Regions from separate parts of the Homo sapiens genome. Here region 1 is linked to region 2. A link means that fine-mapping ties the variant in region 2 to the expression of a gene that starts in the linked region. Tissue or cell type: skeletal muscle. Region 2 holds a variant in brackets; the other region holds the start of a gene. All regions are shown on one strand. Distances are between the middles of the regions.

Region 1 (2,500 bases), 99 kb before region 2:
GGCCCTCCCCTCCACCCCATGACCCACTGTCTACACTGCTGCCAGACTGATCTTTCCAAAAGGCAAATCATACATGTGACTCCTCTGCTTAAAACACAGAATAAAATCCTAGCTCCTTGTCCTGGCCTGCCAGGCCCTCTGATCTTCCCCGCCCTCCTCACCTCATCTCCTAAGCTCTCCTCAAGACCAGCCATGCCAAGTAGGTCTTCCTCAAGGCTTTGGCAGTCACTGTTGCCAAGGGGGTAGGGAACTATGCCTGGAACTATTTTTCCCTAGGTGATGTTCACAGAGATGCTTCCTTTGCATCCATCAGGTCTCAGCTCAATGTCACCTCCTCCAGGAAGGCTTCTCTGATTACTCTTTTGGTGCATTCCTTTTTTCTTTTTTTATGTTTACTCAACAAACATTTATCTTAACTATGTCCCATGCACTGTTCTAGGCAGTGCAGGTAACGGGGTGTTAAGCGAGCCAGGCCCTGTCCTCTTGGAGCTTACAGTCTAATGGGAAAGACAATCAGTACACAAGTAAAAATAAAAAATAAAAAAATGTCGGCCTGACTCGGGGGCTCACGCCTGTAATGCCAGCACTTTGGGAGGCCAAGGTGGGCGGATCACCTGAGGTCAGGAGTTCGAGACCAGCCTGGCCAACATGGCGAAACCCCGTCTCTACTAACAATAAAAAAATCAGTCAGGCGTGATGGGGGGCGCTTGTAATCCCAGCTACTCAGGAGGCTGAGGTAGGAGAATTGCTTGAACCTGGGAGGAGAGGTTGCAGTGAGCCCCGAGATCGCGCCACTGCACTCCAGCCTGGGTGGCAGAGCGAGACCCCGTCTCAAAAAAAAAAAAACCAACAAAAAAACCCCCATGATTTCAGAGCGTCTGAAGTGCTATGAAAAAACAAGAGCGAGGAAAGGCGACAGAGAGGGCCTAGGCTGGAAATCTCGGAGCCGCTCTGGAGACCGGCCCTGGGCGTAGAGTGGGGAGCAGAGGCCAGAGGGGCCGTGTGGAGCGGGTTGGGGGCGGCAAGGGTCACCTGAGCCCCACATCGGAGTTTGGGGAGAGCACCCGGCCGGCCCTAGAGCCCTCTGGTCTGGCCGCCCCGGAGGCGCGCTCGCTCGCCGGAAAGGCACGCGCGGGAGTCAGCCAGGTGCGGCTGCCGCGGGGAGCCGCCCTCCGGGCCGCGCTTCCTGGGGGGCGGGTCTCACCGCTGTCCCGCCCCTGGGCCGCCGATAAATGCGCCGAGCCGGCCGGCACCGCGGGTTCGGAGCGCGAAGCCGCCGCTGGGTCCTCGGCGCGCCCCGCGTCTGCGCTTGCTGCCGCGCCCCGGTCGGCGCGCTGGGAGTTCCAGCCATGCTCTTCTGGCACACGCAGCCCGAGCACTACAACCAGCACAACTCCGGCAGCTACCTGCGGTAAGGGCCGCGCGCGGTCCCCGCGGGTCTCGGGCCGGGCCGGCGGGCCGGGCGCCGTTGGACGTCCAGGGGCGGAGAGGGGGCGCCCCTGCTGGGCCCTGGCCTCCCCGCTGTCCGCCCTCTGGGGACTGAGAGACCCGCCCAGCGTCCCGCCTAGGGACTGACAGATGGACGCCGGCGGGACCCGACGTGCGGAGTTGGGGGCCCGCTGGGGAGGCGAGCGCGCAGAGCCCTATGTCTGCGAGGGCTCCTCCCAGGCGGCAGAGAGGGTGCAGGGCGCGCACCTGCCGGCCCGCCGCCTCCCCTGGCCCGTCCGCCCCCTGCGGCCCTCCTCTCCCCCGCGTATCGGAGAAGCAGAGGAAACTTCCTGCCAGCAGCCTGGTGCCCGGCCCGGGGAAGTTCGTCCCCTGCTCTTTGCCCGTCTCCGCCGGGGCCCCTCTCCCAGCCTCGCGCCCTCTGCAGTGCCCTTCCTTGGACGAGGGGCGGGCGGCGGGCTCGGAGGGGCAGGCCGCCCCACTTCCCGCGATGGTCTTGCGCGTGTTCGCCCGAGGCCCGCGTGGTTATTGCCCTTGATGGAAATCTTTCTTCTGCTGGAGGGATTTGAGTAGTGCCCTTCAGAGGGGAAAGTAAGTCCTGCGTGTTTTGCACAGTTCCCCACAGGCCCCTCTTAGCAGTAGGACCCCGTGTGCTCTCGCTCCCGGAGGATTGTTTTTCCCTGTTCTGCTGCTGGCCGGGACTAATGGGCAGTCATTTCACTTTGTGAACTCGCCTGAACCAGCTTTAGCCTGTCCTTATTTCCATCTTAGTCACAGTTTATGAAATGTGCCTAATTTAACCCAAAGGGCATTTGATATGGGCTCAAGGAAAATGAATGATGAGGCCGAAGGAGTCACAGGCATTGACAGCCCCCATACTAGAGCTACCTTTAAGTGCTAGTTTTGGCCCCAAGAAGTTCCCACTTAGATCTTAAAACGTTATTTGTAATTCCTGGCTGCTGGTAGGTATTTGTCCTCCCTGAAGACATCCCCTTTTCCTGGAGGCGGGGGAATGATTGGGTTTAGTGGATGTATCTGCTGTTTTTATTCATGG
Region 2 (2,843 bases):
TGCAAACTGCCAGGTGTTCTGATTCCAGCCACTGCCCCCCGCACCCCATTCAGGCCTCTGTGCTGGTTGTTAAAATTATTGAGCACCTTCTGGGTACCAGGCCTTGTGCAGAGCACATTATGGACTTACTCCATTCAATCCTTGGAGAAGTTCCTCAAGGGGTCAGCCTCATTTTACAGAGGACGGAATTAAGGGTTAGTTATCCAAGGAGTAAAGGAGGCAGAGATGCCAGCTGGGTGTGAGATGAAAATGGCCCAGGACTTCAATTTTTTTTTTTTTAAGAATGTCCTTCGTATTGCCAGGCACAGTGGCTCACCCCTGTAGTTCCAGCACCTTGGGAGGCCGAGGCAGACAGATCACTTGAGACCAGGAGCTTGAGACCAGCCTGGCCAACATGGTGAAAACCCTTCTCTACTAAAAATACAAAAATTAGTCTGGTGTGGTGGCACACACCCATAGTCCTAGCTACTTGGGAGGCTGAGGCAGGAGAATTGCTTGAACCCAGGAGGCAGAGGTTGCAGTGAGCTGAGATCACGCCACTGCACACCAGGCTGGGTGACAGAGACTCTATCTCTAAATAAATAAATAAATAAATAAATAAATAAATAAATAAATGCCCTTCATACCTTCATATGTCACAGAATAGAGGCCTGAGAAGTTCTCACATCCATTGTCTTTACCTGGGCTCACCCAAAATTCAGGGAGCCTGAGGCTTTTGGCTTCTGTATGGAAACTTAAGGGCGTGTGACCCCGGGGGATGGAGCGATGGACAGGAGAGTGAAGCTGGAGAAAGGAGGACTGATGGCAGATAGCACTGGTGGAGAGCCCTGGGCCCCAGTTCCCAGAAGCTGCACAAACTCATCCTGGGGGAGGTGGGAGGAGACTTTGTCCCGGTGCTCCTGCCTCCTGCCTCTCTGGTGGTGATGTGTGGTGCCCAGGCAGGGCGTGCTCCACGGGCACGCGCACAGAGCTGTCTGCAGACAGAGGCGCCTGGAGCAGGATGCAGGTGAGGCACAGAGGGCTTGCTGTGGAGCCGCATCTTGCAGCTGGGGGCACTGAGGCCTGAGAGGCTCTGACAGGCCATGCACTGGTGTCTGAACCAGGACCTGCTCGAGGTCACCTTCCTCCCAGGCCACTGAAGTGACTGTGGTGGTGAGAGGTAGGCAGCGGCCTGTCTGCCTATGTGTGTGTGTGTGTGTTGGAGAAACAGTATTTGGACTGATGTGCAGGTGGCCAGGAAATGGAGCACGGACACGGTCCTGTCTAGCAAGTTCTCAGGAGCATGTGTGCCCCATATAAAGAAGGTTGGCTGCAGGGCTGCCAGTCCAAGCCCAGAGTGTCCAGGCCCCCATCCCAGGATAGCCCAGCCCAAGCCAGGACATAGTGCCAGTCACTCTCAGGAAGAGCAGGGGACAGTGACACAGCACATGCCCTGGGCTGTTGAACTGTTCCCACTGAGTCCTCAGACAGCCCAGGGGCCCAGGGAGAGCAAGAATGATGAGTAACCAGGCTACGGCATCCAAATAAACACCACCCCAAACCCCAGACCAAACCACCTACAGAGCCTGCCAGCTGCAGCTGCCAGAGGAATCAATACCCATTGTTCTCCTAGACAAATGTTCCCTCTGCACTTTTGGCCACTGTGTTCCAA[G/A]GGATGGCTAGGTGTGGGTTTACATCATGTGGATGGACACAGCTTAATGGGATCTGTTCCTCAAATTGCTCCACCCCACAACCTCCCGCTGCAGGGTCATGAGTTGAAGACAGCTGCCTGGCTGGATCCGGGCGAAGAGCAGGCACCAGGCCTATGTGGACTCCAGTCCCTGAAAGCTGGGTGACCTTGGCCTTGGGTTCCTCGACTACTCAAGAGGGGTGAACATCTGCAGCTCTCGCTATCTCATAGGGTTGGCCTGAAGGTTACAAAGATTCCTGGGAAAAGCAGCCAGCAGGAGTAAAACACACAGTGTTACGGCTCCTTATCTAATTGCAACGGGAGGCATCCAGCTTAGGGCAAGGAGCGTGGGCTTCCCAGTCGGACAGGCCTGGGCTCACGCGCTGGCCTTTTCCATCAAGGCCTATCACCTCTCTCAGCTATGGGTCAGAGAAGTTAGCCTGCAGGACTGTTGGGAAAGTTGCAGCTGCATGCCTGGGTCTTAGCACGGTGCCATGGCCGTGAGAATTATAATGTGGCTGCCATGGTCCAGGCACTGAATGAGCTCAGAGGACCCCTTGCACAGTGCCTGACCAGGTCAGGCCAAGCATCGTGGACAGAGCCGGGGCCACATCCTCTCTGTGCTTAAAGGCCAAAGTCAGCACACCCACCTCTTCCATGGACCTCTCTTAAATTCTTCAAGTCCTCCTTGTGGCCCCTCCTCCAAGCTTCTAGATCCCATGTCACCTATTCCATTCTTTTTAGCTCTTAATCATGGCAGGGGACATTTGCTATTGGATGGAGAGGGGGCTACCCAGTATGTTTGCCCCCTTCTTATTTGAGAATAAGGCCCTATGATGTGAGTATTGGCAGGAGATAAGCCACCCACTGTGGAAGCTGAAGGGGCAGGCATTCTCTCACCTTGTTCCTGGGCAAATGGACCCAGATGTGGCTAAAAGGACACTTCCATCCAGGACTCAGACTTAGGTGGGTGACATTAAGTGGAGGGAAAATGAGATGCCATTTCCTGTGGCAGTGTCCACAGGTGGCAGCAGTGTCCACAGGTGGCAGCAGTGGCCCTGGTGTCCCTCTACGGCGGGAGCATGAGCTTCTGGTGGGCCTTCCCCACAGGCCTCCAGGTGGGACCATGGCCAAGCTTTTGCCCCTGGGCCTCCCTTGGTGGCTGCCCACTTCC

Which allele goes with the higher level. Positions count from the first base shown, and alleles are read on the strand shown. Sizes are in standard deviations (SD) of each study's normalised expression.
For the expression in skeletal muscle of the gene that starts at base 1,257 in region 1, A is the low allele of the variant in region 2 and G is the other (small effect, 0.28 SD a copy in GTEx).

The links. PIP is the estimated chance that this variant, and not a neighbour inherited with it, causes the effect.
Region 1: it holds the start of TFCP2L1, and the variant in region 2 is fine-mapped to the expression of TFCP2L1 in skeletal muscle (GTEx, PIP 0.98).

The regions. Positions count from the first base shown.
Region 1 is chr2:121,283,959-121,286,458 of GRCh38, reverse strand. TFCP2L1 (transcription factor CP2 like 1) reads left to right here and starts at 1,257. Exons shown (of 15, transcript NM_014553.3): 1 at 1,257-1,411. The coding sequence starts at 1,350. RefSeq lists a silencer at 1,092-1,231.
Region 2 is chr2:121,184,590-121,187,432 of GRCh38, reverse strand. No RefSeq gene overlaps it. Among named protein-coding and RNA genes, the nearest start is that of TFCP2L1, 99 kb to the left of the region's middle. The variant G/A (reference allele first, on the strand shown) is at 1,652.